Linked DNA regions of Homo sapiens: regions 1, 2, 3, 5 and 6 are each reported to be linked to region 4. Evidence: microRNA targets listed by miRTarBase, many of them from high-throughput screens and not tested one by one. Region 4 holds a microRNA gene; each other region holds the end of a gene's coding sequence. Distances are from middle to middle.
What was found. Region 4 holds the annotated microRNA hsa-miR-4436b-5p (GUCCACUUCUGCCUGCCCUGCC, at 1,923-1,944, opposite strand). A microRNA usually pairs through its seed, bases 2 to 8, with sites in the 3' UTR of a target mRNA and lowers its output. Matches are read on the target gene's strand: a 7mer-m8 pairs with bases 2 to 8, a 7mer-A1 pairs with bases 2 to 7 and ends in A, and an 8mer does both.

Region 1 (3,647 bases), not on the chromosome of region 4:
GGACAGTACCTGTTTAAGTGTTTGATAAACGTTAAGAAGGAGGTGGACGATGCCTTAGTGGAGATGCACTGGGTTGAGGGCCAGAACAGGGATCTGATGAACCAGCTTTGCACCTACATACGTAACCAAATTTTCAGGCTTGTTGCAGTTAACTAGAAACCTCCTGCACAGTTGGAAACGTGTTGATAGTAACTTGCTTTGGAGTGGCCTGTGGGGTGGCAAGAGGAATCCTACCAGCGGCCCATTAGTAGCACGATGTGGAATTATCTTCGAAAACAAAAACCTATGAATCTGTCCCCCACCTCCCCCCGCCTCCTTCCCGCTTTTTGAGTTACAGGGAGTCGTAGTGTGGTCATTTACAAGGAGGAATTGTGGTCATCAGTAACAACAGAAAGCCCTCAGTAAACTCCCGAGGGATTGCAAGCTGGCTCAAGCTGGCCCCTCAGCTCTGGACTGCCTCTGCAAGGTCAGAAGGGTTGTTTGTGGAGTCTGGGCTGGGCAGCACTGCCTAGAATATCATGCTGTCTCTGTCACCCAAGGGTGTTTCTTGAGGAGGGGTGGCTCTCTCTGCCTCCAGCTGGAGGCCCTGGTACCCTGTTCTAGGTCACTCTTCAAGATGGGGCCTACCTTGCATCAATCCCACAAAGGGAGCTGTATGGTGGGTGGTGGGGAATCTGGGAGAGAAACCTTAGTAATGCTGGGAAGGAGCAGCAGAGTCTGGGGACCACCCGGTAAATGGCACATTCCTGACACCTGGCTGTTTTGATGTTGCTTATTTCAGAAGCAGAATTAGGTAAGCAAAACTCCCCGGTGTGACTGAGGCACACAGAAGGCACCCATACCCCCACCTCCAGCCTGTTGACAGTACCATTTTGTAGCAGTTTTACTACTGTGTGATTTTTGTTTGGACATCTGAAGTAGAGCTTGTTTTGTTTTTAAATAAGAATATTCACAAATTAAAAACCAGCGGTCCTATTTGAATCCTGGGGTTAGCTGAGTGAGCGGCTGATGATAGAAATGAGAAATAGAACAAAATAGTATGTGCCGTAGGTAGCTTAAGAAAGTCTCAGATATTTTGTTGCTGATCAAATACTGTTTTTTTGTGGCTTCACTTGTAATCCCCCCTGTACTTACCTACTCACATTGGAGAGTTCTGAGGCCGGAGTAACTGTGTCCTTGAAACACGTTTCTAATTGGAATGCCAGGGTTCAGTAGCCGTCCCCCCGGAAAGGGGTGACCTTTTGCTGTGCTTGATGTTGCATCAGCAGCCTAGGGTTCTGTTTAGACTAAAATCTTGGCCAGAGCTCCTTGCCATCTGCTAAGAAGACTGGGGCTGAGTAGTTAAGCCAGCCTTCTGAGAGGTGGCTGTTGGTCAGGACGGGAAGCTGGTGACCTTGGCATGTCTTGGCAGCAGCTAGATCAGGCCCTCGGCAGAGACACAGGAAGCGGAACTGCTGTGCCTTAACTTGGCTGTGGAGCTGGAGCTGGAGAAGGCAGCATACTGACCAGTGGCTTTTTGATTGATTGTTTGTTATGAGGTGGAGTTTTACTCTTGTTGTCTAGGCTGGAGTGCCGTGGTGCGATCTTAGCTCACTGCAACCCCCGCCTCCCGGGTTCAAGCGATTCTCCTGCCTCAGCCTCCCAAGTAGCTGGGATTACAGGCACGCGCCACCACGCCTGGCTAATTTTGTGTTTTTGGTAGAGATGGGATTTCACCATGTTGGCCAGGCTAATCTCGAACTCATGATCTCGGGTGATCCGCCCACCTTGGCCTCCCAAAGTGCTGGGATTACAGCCGTGAGCCACTACTCCCAGCCTCTGACCAGTGTTCTTAACCTGGTCCGTGGACCTCCAGAGAGTCCATGTACCTCCTAGAGTTACTTCTAAAAGCTCTGTGAGCATGTGTGTGTGTGTGTGTGTGTGTGTGTATTTTTTTTCCTGGAGAGAGGGTTCCCAGAACCCTCAGACACAGACAAAGGGGTCAATAACCCACTAAGGATTAAGAATCATTATTCTAGTCCAAGCATTCATGTGTCAGGCTGCAAAAAACAATACCCAGGGTCACACAGAGCCAAGACTCAATTCAGGACCGTGGATTCCCCTGGTCTAGAAATTTTCTGCTGTGCCAGCCCACACCACCCCACTGTCCTTACCTCGAGTGAATATTACATTTGAGTCATTTGCTGGGCCCAAACCTAGTTTCCTTGGTATAATTTTAGGATAATTGTTTAAGTGGCAACTATTCATTCAGTAAGTAGTAAGTACTTATTGTTTGCTTGTTTCATTATGAAAGAGTGGCACATGCTCATTAAAGATTTGGAAAAATGAAAGTCAAAACAACAAAATCACCCCGAGTCCCAACCTTCTGTAACATAACCACTCTTGGCATTGGCGTGTTCCTTTCTAGTCTCTCTGTAGACGGGGTGTGTGAGTGTGTGGGTTTAACTTTGGTTGTCCTCATGCTGCGTATTCAGTTTTGTATTCTGGTCCTTTGTTCATTTAACATCTTACAAGTATTTGTCCATGTTGTAACAGTAGTGTATTAGCTTACACTCCTTGCCTGTTCAAAATGTCTTTCAGGCACAGCACTGGCCTTTAAGCCTGTGTCGTAGGGATTTCCAGAGAATGCTCTGTGTATTGAAGCACAGAAGGTGTTTCTGTGTCTCAGTGTGTTTCTGTCCCTAGGTTTAAGGCTTCATGTCATGGAGGAGATTTTATAGATGTCAAGCTAATGACCTTAGAGTTTTAAAAAATCCGTGACCGTGGCCAGGCGCAGTGGCTCACGCCTGTAATCCCAGCACTGTGAGGCTGAGATGGGCGCATCGCATGAGGTCGGGAGTTTGAGACCAGCCTGGCCAACATGGCGAAACCCCGTCTCTACTCAAAATACAAAAATTAGCCGGGCATGATAGCACGTGCCTGTAATCCCAGCTACTCGGGAGGCTGAGGCAGGAGACTCGCTTGAACCTGGGAGGTGGAGGTTGCAGTGAGCCGAGAATGCCACTGCACTACAGCCTGGGCGACAAAGTGGGACTGTCTCAAAAAAAAAAAAAAAAAAAAAAAAAAAGGAACCCATGAGCAGGCCAGCTTTCAGTCTGGAGCCGAGTGCCTTCTGTGCATTTGGATGTTTCCATTTCCTTCCCTGAGAAGATTTTCTTAGGCTACCTAGTGAGAGAACATTGAAAATATTTTTAAAGGACATCTAAGCATTGTTTTGGTCATGCATATGCTTTATAATTGTGTGTTGTTTCATAGCATATACCTCTGGTACAGGTGGGCAAGTTTTTCTTTGAAGAAATGGGTTATTGACTCATATGTCATAACCTTGAGTGTTACTCTCCCGGTGTCCAGAGGTCACATTCATGTTGCGGGGTTGGTATGAAATTAAATCTTGGTGATGTGACCCTACATTCTCTTCTGGTCCCTAGAATCGGCTTCTGGTCTCCTGATAACTGAAGTGGAGACAGAAGTTGAGCCTGTTGCCCAGGCAAACTAAAGCTGCTTTTGTTCTTCGGAATCTGCTTTGCCTCCGTCAGCCTGCTTCCTTCCCCACACATGCTGGCCGCACTGTCCCCACTCCAGACCTCTGCTGTGTGTCCTGGGCAGGGCCGCGTTTTGGCAGTACCCTTTCAACTCATCCTAAGCTT
Region 2 (3,710 bases), not on the chromosome of region 4:
CAGCTACTTGGTAGGCTGAGGCAGGAGAATTGCTTGAACCCAGGAGGCAAAGGTTGCGGTGAGCCGAGATTGTGCCATTGCACTCTAGCATGGGCAATAAGAGTGAAACTCCATCTCAAAAAAAAAAAAAAAAAGGAAGGTGGCGGGGTTGAGCACATTGTCAGTGGTTAGGGTTAAATCACCTTTTTCTAATAGGATAGCTTCATATTTTAGGATTCTTGAATCTGTAAGCCATCTCCCTGCTTTTTGGCTAAGAATGGTTTTAACCTGATGGGGTGTGCTTAGGATGAGACTTCCCCCAAAGGTTATTTTTCTACTTTCCTCTGTCAATAAAACAGTTGCTGCTGTAGATTGGATACATTCGGGCCACCCACAGGTTACCACGTCAAGAATGTTTGACAGAAAGGCTGTGGGCTGGCAATGGCCCCATGCTTTTGAGTGAGTACTCCTATAGCTGCCCCATTGCTTATATTAACAAAAAAGTGAAATGGCTGTTCTAAGGATGGCAGAGCTAAGACAGGGGCAGTTATAAGTAGATGTTTTAGTTCCTCAACTTGCTGGACTTCTTGTGGGGTCCAAAGAAGGGGGTCAGGCCCTTCTTGGGTAAGTTTTAGATATAGAGGTTTTGTTTTTAAGGCATAAGAGTCAATCCACAGGCAATAATTTCCAGCTAGCCTGAAGAATTTTCTAAGTTCTTGTTTTGTCTCAGGCAGTGGCAGGGATATGATCCCTTCCATTTGTTCGGGCCCTATCTTCGGCTTACCTTTGCTTATTAAGTGCCCCATGTGTTTTACCTCAGGTTCTACAAGCTGGAGTTTACTTTTTGAGACCCGTAACCATTGTTCCCTTAGGAAATTTAGAAAGCTAATTAAAATTGCGGTTACTTGGTCTTTGGTGCCTCTGGAAATGAGCAGGTCATCCACATATTGGAGTAGACATAAGGATGATGAAAGAGGGAAATTCTCTAGGACTTGTTCCAAACTTTGACTAATAGGTTTGGAGAGTCTGTAAACCCTTGGGGTAGAACTGTCCATCACTACTATTGCTTCCAACTGGAATGAGGGTCTTCCCATTCAAAAGCAAATATGTCCCAGCTATCCACAGCTAAGGGGCAAGCCCAGAAGTCATCATTGAGGTCTATTACTGTGAACCACTGGCAGTCATGAGGGATCTTGCTGATAATGGTGTAAGGGTTAGGAATGACAGGGTGGGTGGTCTGGACTATTTGGTTAATGGCTCGAAGGTCTCGCAGTAGCCGCTATGACCCATCCGACTTTTTTACAGGCAATATTGGAGTGTTGTAAGAGGACATATGGGGTTCAAGAAGTCCTTCCTGAAGGAGACCTTCGATTATAAGTTATAAACCTATTCTGCCTTTCAAGGGAATAGGGTACTGTTTTCTCTTTACAACTTCCCCAGGATTTCTTAATTTTACATGGATTGGAGAAACTTGTAATTTTCCCCAATTTCCTTCCTATGACCAAACGTCATCAGAGTGGATTTGGCTCTCCTCTAGGGTGGTAAGTAAGTTTAAGGAAGTAGAGAATTTTCCTTGATTAACGTATAGACCTATACCTAATTTTGTCATTAAGTCCCTCCCCAACAGGTTTGTCCCTGCTTCTGGAATTAACAGGAATTTGATGCTAGCTAATTAGTCCTGATACCTGACTTTGCAGAAGCCCACAGGCTGAGGCCAGGAGGTGGTGCTGGGGAGGAAGGCAGAGAAGATGAGTGATCAAGAGAATGCCAGAACTTTTCTCTTACTGTTGTTTTACCAGAAGCCACTTAATACAATCAGACAATTCTTTAAGAAAACTGCAGAGTGCCTTGTTCTTCCAAGAAACTTGGTGCTGAAGAGATCTAGGAAAATGTGTAAGTGACTGTGTTCTAAGAGGCATTTTTTTAAAGAGTTTGACTGGTGTTTGCCAGTTTCTGGCTATTATCTCTTTCACAGGTTCTAGAATATAGGTCTTATTGGCCTACTAGCGCTAACCTGTTGAAGTTTATTGATGAATCTGCAGGGTGCCTGTGAGGAGAGCTTCACAGAGATGGCCAGACCCTGGTGAGAGAGAGTGACATCAGTGTCATTTTACACCCTGCAAAGGAGGGGCCGTATTTTCGCATGAGAAGAAGGCACATTGGTGATTGGTGGTATTGAAAGCTTATAGCAAGAAAAAGTTCTGTTAGAAGAGCTTCTGTTTCTCAGAGCTCCAGAAGCTTTCTTCTGGGAGACCCTTAATAGCATGACCTGCCATCAGGAGAGGAGGCTCAGACAGCTTGCTTTTGATTCCTGGTGAAGGGTGGGTTTGTTCCAAGTAGGAAAAGCAGCTTCTACTGAGGCAGGGACTCTACCTCCCCACTCTTTACAGAGTCCCAGAAGCTTATTGCTGATAGGGACGTTACCCTGGCTCAAGTCCTTCATGGAAGAGACCAGGAACTAATGGCCAGGAAGCCTAAATTACTTAGCAAATGTTTGGGCCAAGCCATGATTTGGACTCAGCAAGTCCAGAGATCCTGCCTTTACATCATCATCTTTTGTTTTCTGGAGTGCTGGTAGGTTAGATCCCAAACTCTGAAGTACTGTCTGTGTTAAAACACTTTTTCCCCATCCCATTTTGAGCTAGCCTCTTCCTCACCAGGCCCATGCCCTTTCTCCTAATTCGCTTTAAAGAGGCAACAGCATGCAGTGAAAGGACCTCTGAGTTTGTATCAAACAGACCTGGGTTCAAAGTTCTGCTTCCCTGTTTCATAGCTATGTAACCTTAAGCAACTCACTTACCATCTCTGAGTCTCTGTTTCCTTGTCTGTAAAACAAGGACAACAGTTAACTTTCTGGGACCTAGCATTCAATAGGCACTCAATCAGTGAGCATGATTCCCTAAGGTGGAAGAGTTTGTATCACCTTCGGGATTTCCAGTGGGTTTAGGGTGTTTTCTGCCATACTCCCAGTAGACTCTATACCTTCTGACTACCCTGGACCATAAAGGAGCAAATAAAAAAGACTCAAGACTGAACACAACACAGAAATGGGTCAAAAGAAAGCTCTTTATTGATTGACTCAGCAATGCAGGGCTGGCACCCATCAGCTTCAAACCACATCTTATCGCATCCACTCCTGTCCACTCCCGTCCACTTTGCCCTCTTCCAGGCTGAAATCTTGCTTTCAGGCAAGGGCTTCCGGCCAGCCTTGCATTAGTTCTCAGCTATGGTCTTCTGAACCCAGTGCTGGATGGAAGTCACCTTCACATACACACCATACTCAGCCACAGCACAGCTCTTATCAAAGCTTAGGATCCCAGCCGCGTACCAGGTGTCCTCCTCCAGGTCGTGAACGGCAAAGGCACTGCCCGCATCGCCATAGCAGGTGTCTTCCTGGTACTTAGACATGCCGACACAGAAGGTGTGTTCGTTCAGTATGGGCTGCACCCCTACAGGGCTCTTCGGTGCCTTCCATTTGGGGCATGTGCTGCCTTCATAATGCGTTATGCAATCGTATTGGTCAGCCACAGGCAGCATGACATACTTCAGATGGTCAGTAAGTTTAAAGTTGTCACTTTGTCCCCAGCCAGACACGTAACCCACACGCCCTACTTCTGCATAATTCTTTGAAGGTAGGCAGATGGGCATCACTCTCTCATTAACAAGCACCTTCTGTTTGAGTTTGATGAGCCCAATATCTACCTGGTGGTAGTTAGGGTGTAGAACCACCT
Region 3 (3,710 bases), 90 Mb from region 4:
GCTGTACTCGCGGGCAGCTGAGCCCCTAGTCGGTCAGCGCTGGGAGGCGTTCGACGTGGCGGACGCCATGAGGCGCCACCGTCGTGAACCGCGCCCCCCCCGCGCGTTCTGCCTCTTGCTGCGCGCAGTGGCAGGCCCGGTGCCGAGCCCGTTGGCACTGCGGCGGCTGGGCTTCGGCTGGCCGGGCGGAGGGGGCTCTGCGGCAGAGGAGCGCGCGGTGCTAGTCGTCTCCTCCCGCACGCAGAGGAAAGAGAGCTTATTCCGGGAGATCCGCGCCCAGGCCCGCGCGCTCGGGGCCGCTCTGGCCTCAGAGCCGCTGCCCGACCCAGGAACCGGCACCGCGTCGCCAAGGGCAGTCATTGGCGGCCGCAGACGGAGGAGGACGGCGTTGGCCGGGACGCGGACAGCGCAGGGCAGCGGCGGGGGCGCGGGCCGGGGCCACGGGCGCAGGGGCCGGAGCCGCTGCAGCCGCAAGCCGTTGCACGTGGACTTCAAGGAGCTCGGCTGGGACGACTGGATCATCGCGCCGCTGGACTACGAGGCGTACCACTGCGAGGGCCTTTGCGACTTCCCTTTGCGTTCGCACCTCGAGCCCACCAACCATGCCATCATTCAGACGCTGCTCAACTCCATGGCACCAGACGCGGCGCCGGCCTCCTGCTGTGTGCCAGCGCGCCTCAGCCCCATCAGCATCCTCTACATCGACGCCGCCAACAACGTTGTCTACAAGCAATACGAGGACATGGTGGTGGAGGCCTGCGGCTGCAGGTAGCGCGAGGGCCGGGGAGGGGGCAGCCACGCGGCCGAGGATCCCCAGCTGATGAGCAGCAGCGGGCCACCCTGTCACCGAGCGTGGGTGCATGTCCGATGTGACCCAGCACCCTCTCAGAGGAGGGAGAGCACACGTTCACACTCACACACACTCGTGCAGTCACGCACACATTTACCGGGGACAGCATGTGAAAGCCTTGGGAAGAGATGACCTGCCGGTACCGAATGTCAAAGCCCTGTGTATTTTGCAAACAGATAACCATGGCGCCCACTGCCCCCATTTAGGGAGAGGAAGGTGTTTGTGCTGATGTTGCAGTTAGAGGCACGAAAATCAGGTAGCAACAACGGGTTAGGAAATTCGAAGTTCCAGAATGGGAGAACCAAAGGGGTACTCGAGCATGCTTTATCTCACCCCCTTTTGTTTCTGGCCCGATGTGGGGCATCGCTTCCCTGGGGGGCTGAGCGCCGCGTGGTGCACTCCGTGACCCACTGCAAGGCTGTAATGCCCTTCCCGAGGGTTTGTGTTGCATGGGGCCGTTTACCCTGGAACTGCTGCAAAAAGCATCTTTCTTTTTTTAACTTTTAAAATTTAACGTGCCCCTGCTTCATTTTTGAAAGGGAAGTTTTGTCTGAAAGTAGCTGTTGTGGAGCTTCCCAGATTTCTGCAAAGGTCGGTACCGCCACCCCCCCCCCCCCCCCCGCCTTTTTTTTTTTTTTTTTTAATCAATTCCAATAGGAAATGTTATGGAAAGTGGAAAGGATATTTTTCTTTTAAACGGCTGAGTCTGATCTAACAGGATATTGGGGTGGGATAGGATCTGCCAGGTTCGGAAGCTCCCCAGTTGGTCAGGGGGAGGTGGGAGCCATGCCTCGGGTGGCTCAGGAGGAAGTTAGTGCAATGGCCCGGAATGGGGAAGGTGGGGCTGGGGGAGGGGAGCTACTGCTTTTCCTAGAGACCTGCCAGGAGGTTTTCCTAAGAAGCCAGGGAAGAGGCTCTCAGGGCTTGAAAGGCAAGGAGGTGTCCTGGGGCCCACTCCAGCCGAGGACTCCGGCTTGCCGGCCAGGTAGGCGGAAGCTCCCGGGGCCGACTCGGGCTTGTGCTAGTTATCAAGTAAGTCGGCCTCCGCTTTTTACCTGCTTTCGCTGTGTTGTTGCTGTAGTTGTTGGCAGTGTGATAGTAACGGGAAGTGAAGCCACTCAAAAATGCTTTTGTCAGACTTCAACTCACAACCCAGACCTTTAGAGCAGGGGGAAGGTCTGCCCCTTCCCCTCATCGGCTCCCTGGCTTGGCTGCTGTGCCCTTGGAAGGGCAGGGCCTTGGTGTGGGGGAGCAGAGGTGGAATATCCCCCAGTTCCCTTATTTGGCCCCAAAGGGTCTTATTGATGGGAGGATTTTCTAGGCATGTAAAAGTGAGTTCGAACATTCAGACTTCACTGTTTGATTTGATTTGTTTATGCCTGGGAATCCTTTGTGGCTTTTTGTCAATAGGCTGGGAGAGGGAACCTAGTTGGACTCCAGCTGTCCGGGGTGGGGGCTTCTTAGAACAGCCCCGCAGCCCTCTCGGTGCATCTGTGTGATGTTGTGTAGGACTTTCCCCTTCAGAGTCCTGGGGAGCATTATTTCCACCCTGTGTTGGATGCAGGACAATTCATACACATTTTGATTCTCAGTGATTACACTCTTGAGAGAGAGAAGACAGACTTACGATTTAGATACAGCTAATTTACTTAGGGGCCCTACCTGAATCGGTTTTCATCCTGTAAAATTCTCCCAAAAGAAAAAAAAATACACGTGTAAATTACTCTTAAAATTAAGATTCCCCCCTTCCTCCTATTATGTGAATTTATATTCTGTGGCTGTATGAGTAGCTATAAATAACCAGAACATGAACAGTCTCTTCAGGTTAAAAATTTTAAAAATATCCAAAAGTGGCTGCTCTGGTACAATTCCATCTTATTTTAGTGACTGGGCAAAGATGGTCCCTAAATTTGTGGATTTTGCCAGAGATGCCTCACTCTCGTTTTTAAAATGAAGCTTGTCATAATGAAGAATTATATATTAAAAAAAGCACTGAAGTGTTGAAAGTTGTAGTATTAGAAGGTTTAGAAAGGAAGTTAATGACAAAGTGCAGTTAAATGTTATTTTGAGGAAGGTCTGGGGTATTTAATATCTTTGGATAAAAGCAAACATTTTGATACTTTTTTAGTGACTAGTAAAAACAATTTTTTGGGCAGAAATGTCTTGATTTAGCCTGGCCTTTTTATAGTAGGGAAAAAAACTGTCAATTTCCCCTCTTTCCTTCTGATGACCTCCTTCTAACGAGATGTGTTGTGAGTGGTGTGGGAAGTAGGTACCTTCCTGCATCTTGAGTTCAGGTGGCACCCGGTGGGAGGGGTGTTGTCCTTGGACAGTGACTGTTCCTTCCATGGCCCCATACCCTCAGTGTGCTCTTTGTTTACTGGATAAAAGGAATGCTTCCCAGATTTCCTCTGGAGCAGGTGAAGCCCCCAGGGGCCACTCTGCCCAGCCCTCTGGCATCTCAGTCCATTCACTAGGTGAATGCAGAGGATCCATTTCACTTGTAAAAATGACAACAAAGGGCCAACACATGTGGGGCAGACGGCTTTTTGCTGCTAAGATGTGGTTTAACTAGCATTGCCAAGGTGTGGAGAAAAGCGTTCTGCCAGCACAGTTGGTAGTAGCACCCTGAGCTCTCTGTCTTCTAGGTAGCGGGGGACAGGCCTGGGTGACTGGCATGAACCCAGCTTCTCTGTTGCAACCCCCAGCTGGAATCTCCAGTCACCATGGATGGGAGAACTGACAGGCAGGGAGAAAGCATGTCAAGACTGTGAGGAAAGGCTGTCCCCTCAACCCCAACCTGAGGTCACCAAAGTCTCCCTCCTAAAGTAAACAGAATTTTCCATTTTGTAGGGAGAAT
Region 4 (3,710 bases):
GAGGGTGCTTTCTGAGGAACCAGTCCTTAAGAGGTGGGGTCTTGGATTCCTGACCCAGGCGTCCGGCAGCTGCTCAGTTTCCGAGATGTCAGACTCATGGAGGAGCAGGCTATGCCCTTCCCTCCCCATTCCCCACCCCTCAAGCCCCAGGTCTTACTGTATAATGATTTATTTTCCCCACACGTCTACCCTCAAAATTGGCTTCATGCAAATTTCCCTTGAATCCTAATGCTGGAGAGGAAAGGGGAGGGGAAGTGGGAGGGTGGTGGGCAGGGTGGCTTGACCCTGTCAGCCTCCCAGGGAACTCGGGACCACGGCTCCCCAGCACAGGCTGAACAAGTACCAGGAACAAGGTCTATGCATCTGCGTTAGATCTGAAGGCCTTGGCAGCACCTCTTCAATTTTAAGAGAATCAGGCCGGGCGCGGTGGCTCACGCCTGTAATCCCAGCACTTTGGGAGGCCGAGGCGGGCGGATCACGAGGTCAGGAGATCGAGACCATCCTGGCTAATACGGTGAAACCCCATCTCTACTAAAAATACAACTAAATTAGCCGGGCACGGTGGTGGGCGCCTGTAGTCCCGGCTACTCGGGAGGCTGAGGCAGGAGAATGGCGGGAACCCGGGAGGCGGAGCCTGCAGTGAGTGGAGATCGCGTCACTGCACTCCAGCCTTGGAGGAAGAGCGAGACTCCGTCTCAAAAAAAACAAAATAAAACAAACAAAAAAAAGATCAGACTGAGTATTCCCCTAGACCTACTCTAGGGAAGCCCATAGCTGAGGCAAAATCCCCAAACAGACTTGGCATTAGTGGGGCTAGGATTCTCCATTAGTGGAGTGAGGGCTTTGATGTGAGTTGTCTAGAAGAGCAAGTTCATGGTCAGATAATTCCAAGAGACAGTTGTTTTCCCAGGAAAAAGAAAAGCTTCCTCCTATTCAGCAGAGTGAATTTAAATGTCCAAACAAAGTGTGGTGTCATCGCTCAGTCTGCAAGGACGTTCTGTTAATCCCGTGGACGTTTTAGTGGATCTTCCGTTTGTCATCCAGATGGCAAACGTTGGAAGCTGCTTTTGGGGACCAATAATTGGAGCTTTCAAAGAGCATTTCCCCCTTGGCCTGGCGCCTGTGCATCAGTGGTAATAGATGCTGAAGGCATGGAGAATGTAGAGCAGCGTGGCGATGAAGGCGAAGAACTGGAAGGAGGTGGAGAGTGACTGTTAGAGACAGCAGCGCCAGCTCCTGCCCACCCCTCAGGTACCCTCAGCCCCACTGCCCAGGAGGCCACGCATGACCCTGCCTCCTCGCCTCCTGCGTGGCCTGAGGGCAGCAACCCCTGGCCAACAACTCCCTCTTCTGGAAACTCTCCATCAGGGCCTCCCTGGGGCCGTCCTGGTGTCCTGCCCCGACTGCAGTCTCCACCTCATCTGCACCTGGCTGTGAAGCAGGCTCACCTCCACCACAGCTCTGGGCCCATATCCCACGCTGACCTCCTGCCCGAGGCCCGCTCTCCTCTGCCCACCTCCAGCAAATCTGTGTTCTGAACACTCCTACAGCTCCCCTCGCTGGCCCAGAACTCTGCCCTGAGCGGCTGCTTATCAGCTCCTCGTGAATGTTCAGACATCCTCCAGCTCTTCCTGGCTCACACTGAGCCCCTGACGTTTCCTCACAAGCCTGACAAGCCCAGTGGGCCCCAGGGTCCTCCTCTCGCCCCACTCCCTGAGCCTGACCCCTGTGGCCCCTGGCTCCTCCTGCCTCCCTTGCCAGCCATATGCAAAGCCACCCCAAAGGCTACTGATTTCCCTGCCTAGCTCTTGGGACATTCATTTTTCCCTTGTCTCAGCCACCGGCATCCCTCGGCAGGACTCCTCATGGCCTCACTTGTCCACTTCTTCCTGCCCTGCCCCTCGAATCTGCTCCACCATTTGGGCAGGGCAGGCAGAAGTGGACAAGTGAGGACACTTCTCACTCATGGGGAGAACACAATCCCGTTGCCCCACGTTGAAGCTGTATGATGGCTCTGCTCTTTTCTCAGGGTAGGGCCGTCACCTTCAATACCTTTCAGGCCCTGCCAAACATCCCAGCCCCACTCTGCCCCACTGTCCACTCACACGCTCCTCATTCAGTCAGTCAGTCAACAAATATCTTTTAAGGACCTGCTTTCCTTCAAGAGCAACTGTGGGTATAACAGTGAAGAAAATATTCAAAAATTCCTGCCCTCATGGAGCTTACATTTGAGAGATAAGAAGCAGATAGCAGCAAGATAGATGAGTAGCACATACATGGGTTAGATGGAGGTAAATGCCACCCACTGTGGAGTGCACTGTGACCCTCTGGGGTGGCCACAAGATATTTCAGCTGCCTTCTGGCCTGTCTGCCTCCCTTCCCTCCTCATCAGGTGAGTTTAACTTCCTAAACTTGCAAGACCAGCAACGGCCCCTGCAATCCTCCATGGCCAGCTGTCCCAGCTACACCACCCTCCTGGCTGCCCTTGAGCACACAGAGGGTCCTTGGCAGGGGTAACTGCCTGGTGGGACCTTAGCAGGGGTAACTGCCTGGTGGCCCCTGCCTCCTTCTGTCCTCTTGACAGGGCCTTCCCTGATGCCTCCTCCCCTGAGACCTCGACATTCCACTTTCCCCTTCCCTGCTTCATCTCTCAATAGTTCAGCCATGCCGAGGGATGCGGGCCCCATTCCAAAGGCAGTGGGTGCCATTGAAGGATTTTCAGTAGGAGAGAGACATCTGTTCCAATTTGTGTTTTGGAAAAAGAAAATTCTGCAGACAGCGTGGGGGGTGTCTAAGAGAGAGGAAAGCTGGAGTGGGAACAATAGAAGGTAAAAGAGGACCCCTGAACGTGGGTGCACATGTTTACAGGGACACACATCCCTATCCCCTGCCCCCATGGCTCCTTCCACTTGAGGGCTCAGGGTCTATACAGCACAAGCAAAGTTAGGCCTCCTGCACGAAACATCCTCCAGGCAAGACTGCTGTCCTTGGCCAGCCCACTCACCGAGGCTGCCGAATTAATGTAGTAAATTCTTGGGTCCAGCAGTTTCTCAGAAACAATCGTGGCATGTACTTGTAGGACGGCAGCGCTCATGTACAGGATGCCAGTGGTCCCGTGGTACAGGCTGTCCTGGAAATGCAGAGCAGAGCCACGCATGGCCACATCAATCAGGTGAACATTTTCCTCTCTGGCTACATAGCAGTAAAGAATGAGCAAATGAGGCAGGCCAGCCCCCTAGAGTCCTGCCTTTTTTTTTTTTTTTTGCAGTGTGATTTGGTTTGGCTCTGTGTCCCTGCCCAAATCTCATCTCGAATTGTAATCCCCACATGTTGGGGGAGGGACCTGGTGGGAGATGACTGGATTATGGGGGCAGTTTCCCCATGCTGTTCTCGTGATAGTGAGGGAGTTCTCATAAGATCTGATGGTTTAAAAGTGTGACACTTCCCTCTCTCACTCCTGCTGCCATGTAAGGTGTGCCTTGCTTCCCCTTCGCCTTCCACCATGATTGTAAGATTCCTGAGACCTCCCTAGCCATGCAGAACTGTGAGCCAATTAAACCTCTTTTCCTTATAAATTACCCAGCCTCAGGTAGTTCTTTACAGCAGTGTGAGAACAGACTAATACAGAAAATTGGTACCAGGAGTCAGGCACTGCTATAAAGATACCTGAAAATGTGGAAGCAACTTTGGAACTGGATAATGGGCAAAGG
Region 5 (3,000 bases), not on the chromosome of region 4:
CTCAGGGTTTCTTCTTCTTTTTTTTTTTTTTTTTTTTTTTTTTTTTTTGAGATGGAGTCTCACTTTGTTGCCCAGGCTGGAGTGCAGTGGCGCAATTTCCACTCACTGCAAGCTCCGCCTCCTCGGTTCACGCCATTCTCCTGCCTCAACCTCATGAGTAGCTGGGACTACAGGCGCCGGCCACCACGCCCAGCTAATTTTGTATTTTTAGTAGAGATGGGGTTTCACCGTGTTAGCCAGGATGGTCTCGATCTCCTGACCTTGTGATCCTCCCTCCTTGGCCTCCCAAAGTGCTGGGGTTACAGGCTTGAGCCACCGCGCCCGGCCTCAGGGTTTCTTTTATAACTGTGATCAGGAAGATGTGCTTTTCTTTCTACTTGGTTAAGCAACTAATCAAACTCAGCACAACAAAACAAAGATTCTCCTTTTCTCCCAAGAAGTTCAACAGTTCTAGCGTTGTAGAACATTTCACAAATAAAACCATCCTAGTTTCCTTTTCCCATAAACAGTTGAACACATCAGTGTGATAAGATCACCTCACACTATTTCTTGGCTTAATGCTAGCATTGCCTCCTGCATACAGATTTCTCTTACCCTTCTAGCAGATTTAATTGCTTCTTCCCCTGTATTCCCACAGCACTGTATATACTCTATTATAGCTAGTTTACGAATAATAATATTAATTCTGGACCATAAAATTGCAACTGGTCAATGCCTGGCATATAATGAACACTCAAATGAACAAGGAATTGAATCTTGCTTTAATGAAGTAAGTCAAGACTAATTATGTCAGTTCCAATCTTAAGAACGTCCTTGGCTTTTAATGAGGGGTCTTCATCTTTGAACACAGATTTAGTTTCAGACAGTGGTTTTTGCTGCCTGTAATAACTAAAGTTTGCAAAAAAATTAATTATTTGAGGACACTATATTTTTAAGAAATGAATTTCCTTAAACTATTCCTACAAGGGTAATATACAGTAAGTGAAAAACCACTAACACGGTAGTTCTCATAGTGGTTGCTTTTATGTATGCATACTTAAGATAATTTTAAGTGGTTAGAATAGGTCCAGAGAACACCTATATTCTATGGTGTTGCCATTTAATGTTTTAATTATTTAAAATACTTAAATAATTTAATATTTAATTTGAAAAATTAAATACTGAGTTTGTTGTGGGCAAATTAGTGGTGATAAAACATTATTAATCTAAAATCTGCTCTTAAAATTTGTTCAGATTATCATTGACTGATTGGCCCCGCCCTCCCCATATTCACTCATAATATGATTTGTTATTTTGTGATTCTTGACAGTTAAGAAAGCAATTTTAATACCTGAAATGCAAGTCTAGCTGTGGCTTCATTTTAAGAATTTGGTAATTTTGTAAAAGTGCTTGAATGCTTGTTTTACCATTGTTATATCTCAATTCTTATAAGACCCTCAGCAGAATCAATTTACATGACTGGCAGTACTAAGCCACTTTAAAATTATTTTAAATAATTTTATTTGCTTGGGTTCTACTTGTTTGGGTTTTACATACTACTGTGGCATCCTTCTTTTAAGGATATAAACTATAATTAGAAATGATATGGAAAAAAGTGACTAGAAAACAAATCTGAAGGCTTTTAAAAATTTCAGAGTACATTAGTAAATGCTTTAAAAGACAACCCATCCAATAACATATATGCAAGTTAACACTACAAATTCAATGACATAAGAAAATAGATTGGACTTACTTTTACATTCACCTCTACAGATACTCTATAATGAACACACTAGTATGATGATAATAAAGCAATCAAGAACAATTTATCTCTCAGTCTGTGTATATGTGACTATCTACATATTTATTTCACACACACATGCCAAATACCCACATAACTTCAATCCTATATCCATTTACCTCTCAGAGTGATTTAAAGTAGCCACAGTGGCACATAAAAGGAAAAAAATAATGAATTCCAGGCTTCCTAGTAAGTAAAGCCAAATCAAATTGTTCAAGTGATACTATAGTGCTATTTTTACAGGAAAACACAGATTTCTATAATTTCTGGTCATTTACTTCATCATTAAAGTACTATTTGCCAATATTGGTTTCACATAATGACAATAAAACATTCTTGACTTATATACTACATGAAAAAAATAGATTATGAGCTTATTTTTTGACCAGTCATCAAACATGTTTTCATTTGAATAAAGAAAATTCTTCCAGTTTAATATGTTTATCAATTTGTTTTTTCAATGAAACAAAGTAAATTTACAGTAAAGTTACTGGTCTCAATATAAGTCTTCCAATCTTCAAATTCAGCCGAACAGTACAAGGATTACAGGAGAAAAAAAAACACAATTAATCTCTTGTGGCTATCATTTTAGGGGCTGGTTTTCTCATATTGCTGAATTCTACCACACCCTGTCGTATTTCCAAGGTTTGGATGGTGCTTTAAATCTGAACTGCCTGAGAAGATTCAGAAAGCCTTTGTTCTTGGGCTTACACAGTAAGCACTTTGCGTGATTCCTAATCACATTTTTATCCAGAACACAGTGTTACGGGTCACATTTTTCTCAATAATGCTTATATTGATTGATGCTCTATAAATATAAACATATTTACATACAGAATACACACACTGACATGGGGGTATGAAGTTAGCCAGCCATCCATAGGAAGAATGGAATAAAAATTGCAGGAAGGGTAGTGTATGATACCAAGCCCGTACAGACTATAGACGCCAATCCCAAGACTGCTGAAGCAAGAACACTTCTCTGATCACGAATAATTATCTTCACAGTCTCACAAAACTGGAAAATAAAATATTGGAAAATTAGGAAAGGTGGCTAAACCCAAGAAGAATCACATATATCAAACAGTAAATCAGTTTTCCCAGCTATTTTCTGTCTACCAGAAGAACTAGACTTTTTCTTATGACTTACAAAAAAATTTACAATGTTAAGAGTCCAGTTCTGATTCTATACCGTATAGTAGCAGAAATGATCCCTTAGG
Region 6 (3,000 bases), not on the chromosome of region 4:
GGGATACAGAAACTAGGGCTAAAGGACTTTGGGGTCAGGCCTTGCTTGCATAAAGGAGAAAACAACTCTATGTACATGCTGGGGGAGAGTGCCTAATGTGGGAGACCAAATAGGGATCACCAGGCTAATGGGGGGCGTCAGCAGCTTTCTCTCCCTCCTATCTTGGCCTGTTCTTTTTTGTTTTTTGAGACGGAGTCTCACTCTGTTGCCCAGGGTGGAGTGCAGTGGCATGATCTTGGCTCACTGCAACTTCCACCTCTGGGATCAAGGGATTCTCCTGCCTCAGCCTCTTGAGTAGCTGGGATTACAGGCGCCCACCACCACAGCCTGCTAATTTTTGTATTTTTAGTAGAGATGGGGTTTCACCATGTTGGCCAGGCTGGTCTCAAACTCCTGACTCGAAGTGATCCGCCCACCTTGGCCTCCCAAAGCGTTGGGATTATAGGCATGAGCCATGTGCCTGGTCCACCTTGGCCTGTTTTGTTTTTCTTTCCTTGGGCTCAGCAATTCAAATTCTAGTTGTTATTTGGTGGAAGCAGTAGCCCAACCCCAGTTTAGGGGAAGGTAGCACAGGGCAGAGCCACTGGGCACTTTGTTTCCTTGGCCCTCCGAAGCTCACTGTTGCAAATACCCCCAAGCCTTTGCTCTAGGCCAGATCTTGTTTGGTGCAGGTGATGGAGAACACAGATGACTCGGGCATGGGTCTTGGAGATCTTCTGTTCAAAGTACAGTGCTGGCACTGGGGCACAGAGTGCCCACGTTAGCCCCGGGCTCTGATAGAGAGGTAGGAGGCACGTTCTTGGTCACTGTTCCATTGCAGACCAGACTTGCTGGCCTGACCACAAGGGAGTGGCTGGGAACTCACAGCCAGCATAGGGACATCCCCCTGCAGCCTTCTGACCTGCAATCAAGGCTGGGGAGGGGTTTGCAGGCAGGAATATGCTGACCTTTCACCCTGCCATCCCATCCCAACCCCAGCTCACTAGCCTTCATATATGCCTTATACTTGGAGTCACAGGGGCCAAAGGCCTGAGACCCCACCCTGCCCCCAAACTGGCTAAGACAGCTTTCAGTTCCTGACTCCCCAACTTGGTCTCTGCCCTGAAGCAGGGCACTGAACTCTGGGCTGCTTCTCTGTGTGTAAAATGGGCACATCTTCCTAATCTGTTAATGGTCAGTGGTGTCCCCAAGGATAGTGCTGGCTTCCATGGAAACCCTCACTCCTGGAGATTCCATTCCATTTTCAAGTGTACAGCCACAGCAAGGAGCCCGACACTGATTTGATCGATTCTGTGACACAAACCCCACCAATTGTTAATGCAAGTTTTTATTTGGCTGTATATACAATTTAAGCTATTAAAATTTGTACAATATTTACAAATTAAATAATCATCTGAAACTGTCTCCAACAACTCTTGTAACACAAAACCAAGGGGAAAAGACAGGGGCAGGCAGGTCCCAGCTCCTGTGGTCCCTCCTTGGCACAGAGCCTTTTCTAAACTGGAAAGACCAGGAGTCTGGCACTCCTGTTCCTCTTTCCCGGGATTAAGCATTCAACTTCAAAAGACAAAATTTAAGCCAAAAGACACTAGTAAGGAAGTAATTCCAATTCTAAACTTCAGAAGTTCTGCCAGTTGAGAAGTGGCCTTCCTTGGGCGCTGGGATTGCAGTGGTCAGGAGCAGGCGCACTGGCCCTTGCCTGGAGTGCGGCTGGGCAGTGGCTGCTGGGTGAGACAGGTCAGTCTCACTTGAGAAGCTGCAGAGGAAAGGGGCCTGGGGGGAGGGGCGGGGCAGGGTCCCTCAGTGCTGCCCGCCTGCACCCCCACTCCCAGGCATTCCTTTCCCTGAGTTGTGTGGTTGCCAGTAAGACGCAGAAATGCCACAGGGCATAGGGGGCACAGCCACCACCACAAGAGGCTTCTGGGGAGATCAGGGTAAGAAAAGGAAATGGGTACCAGTCTTAGGGGTGGGCCAGCGAGCAAGTTCATAGCTTGCCTCCAGCCCCTCTGGAGTCCACACTTGGGAACGGGAGCTAATACTGTTCGGCACTGCAGTGTGACTCCGCACATACAAGTAGGGCTTGGAGGGGCAGCCCCTTCTCCTGGAAAGGGGTGGGGGAAGAAGAGGGCTTCTCAGAGGCTAAACCTTCTGCCTTCATGGCCCCAGCAGAACACAGGGCTGAAGAGTTGGAGAGGAAGGCTGGAACTGACCCGAGATCCCCATGGCTGCCTGGGACTGGAGTCAAATGGGAACCCCAGCCTCTTTCCACTTGGCCTAGGGGATGCCGCCTCTTTCTCAGAGCTGGGGGTACTACTCCCTGGTGCAGACAGAGAGGGAGCTGGCACTTGGTGGCAGGACATGTTCCAGCGAGGGCTGCTCAAAAGAGCAGAGGCTGGGGCTGGGCTGGGGCAGTGTCAGTGGGCAACAGGAGACTCCAGCTTCTGCAGGCGGCGCCGGCGGAGCTCTGCTGCATCGGGCTCTCCATCCTCAGGCATCTCCTCTGTGCCCACTGACTCAGGAGCTGGGGACAGAGAGACTGGAAGTGGAACCTAGAGAAGTTCCCTGCTCCCCCGGCTGGAGGCCAATCACACCTACCTGGAGGCCTTTCCATTTCAGGGGCTGGTGGGGAGGCTCCTGGGGTTGGGGTCGTGGCCTCTGAGCTAGGGATGCTGGTGGAGGAGGCAGCAGCAACAACTGTAGTGGCAGTCTCCTCAGTGGAGTTGACTGAAGTGGCAGGCCGGGGGGGCCTGGGAAGAGAAGGGACGAGAGGCGGGCCTGGCCTTGGCATCCAAGGTTGGGCAGATTCTCCTGCCCTTGGTGAGCCTTGCAGAACAGAGTATAGAATGATGTGCCCTTGTGGCCCCAGTGCCTGGCAAACACAAGTGAACATGCTGAATGAACTCAGACAGGGTGACTGGACTCAAGGGCCAAATGATTCTATCCCTTAGCTGTAAGGTGCTTGCAGGCAGGGACTGTTGACCTGTTCACTCTTACCCTGCA

Region 1: the mRNA of METTL16 is a reported target of hsa-miR-4436b-5p. Seed matches in the 3' UTR shown: 7mer-m8 at 3,456-3,462.
Region 2: the mRNA of HPR is a reported target of hsa-miR-4436b-5p. Seed matches in the 3' UTR shown: 7mer-m8 at 3,129-3,135.
Region 3: miRTarBase lists GDF7 as a target of hsa-miR-4436b-5p. Seed matches in the 3' UTR shown: 8mer at 1,521-1,528.
Region 5: the mRNA of LRAT is a reported target of hsa-miR-4436b-5p. Seed matches in the 3' UTR shown: 7mer-A1 at 97-103.
Region 6: the mRNA of SYVN1 is a reported target of hsa-miR-4436b-5p. Seed matches in the 3' UTR shown: 8mer at 2,264-2,271.

Annotation. Positions count from the first base shown.
Region 1 is chr17:2,416,479-2,420,125 of GRCh38, reverse strand. METTL16 (methyltransferase 16, RNA N6-adenosine) reads left to right here. Exons shown (of 10, transcript NM_024086.4): 10 at 1-3,647. The coding sequence ends at 156. Among named protein-coding and RNA genes, the nearest start is that of MNT, 17 kb to the right of the region's middle.
Region 2 is chr16:72,076,564-72,080,273 of GRCh38, reverse strand. HPR (haptoglobin-related protein) reads right to left here. Exons shown (of 5, transcript NM_020995.4): 5 at 3,028-3,710. The coding sequence ends at 3,193. Among named protein-coding and RNA genes, the nearest start is that of HPR, 15 kb to the right of the region's middle.
Region 3 is chr2:20,670,654-20,674,363 of GRCh38, forward strand. GDF7 (growth differentiation factor 7) reads left to right here. Exons shown (of 2, transcript NM_182828.4): 2 at 1-3,710. The coding sequence ends at 772. Among named protein-coding and RNA genes, the nearest start is that of GDF7, 5.4 kb to the left of the region's middle. RefSeq lists an enhancer at 1-487.
Region 4 is chr2:110,283,099-110,286,808 of GRCh38, reverse strand. MIR4436B2 (microRNA 4436b-2) reads right to left here and starts at 1,956; the gene lies at 1,866-1,956. It also overlaps the pseudogene LOC128966597.
Region 5 is chr4:154,748,782-154,751,781 of GRCh38, reverse strand. LRAT (lecithin retinol acyltransferase) reads right to left here. Exons shown (of 3, transcript NM_004744.5): 3 at 1-2,798. The coding sequence ends at 2,646. Among named protein-coding and RNA genes, the nearest start is that of LRAT, 6.3 kb to the right of the region's middle.
Region 6 is chr11:65,125,968-65,128,967 of GRCh38, forward strand. SYVN1 (synoviolin 1) reads right to left here. Exons shown (of 16, transcript NM_172230.3): 15 at 2,596-2,747; 16 at 1,312-2,521. The coding sequence ends at 2,415. MRPL49 (mitochondrial ribosomal protein L49) reads left to right here. Exons shown (of 4, transcript NM_004927.4): 4 at 1-1,404. Among named protein-coding and RNA genes, the nearest start is that of MIR6751, 2.5 kb to the right of the region's middle.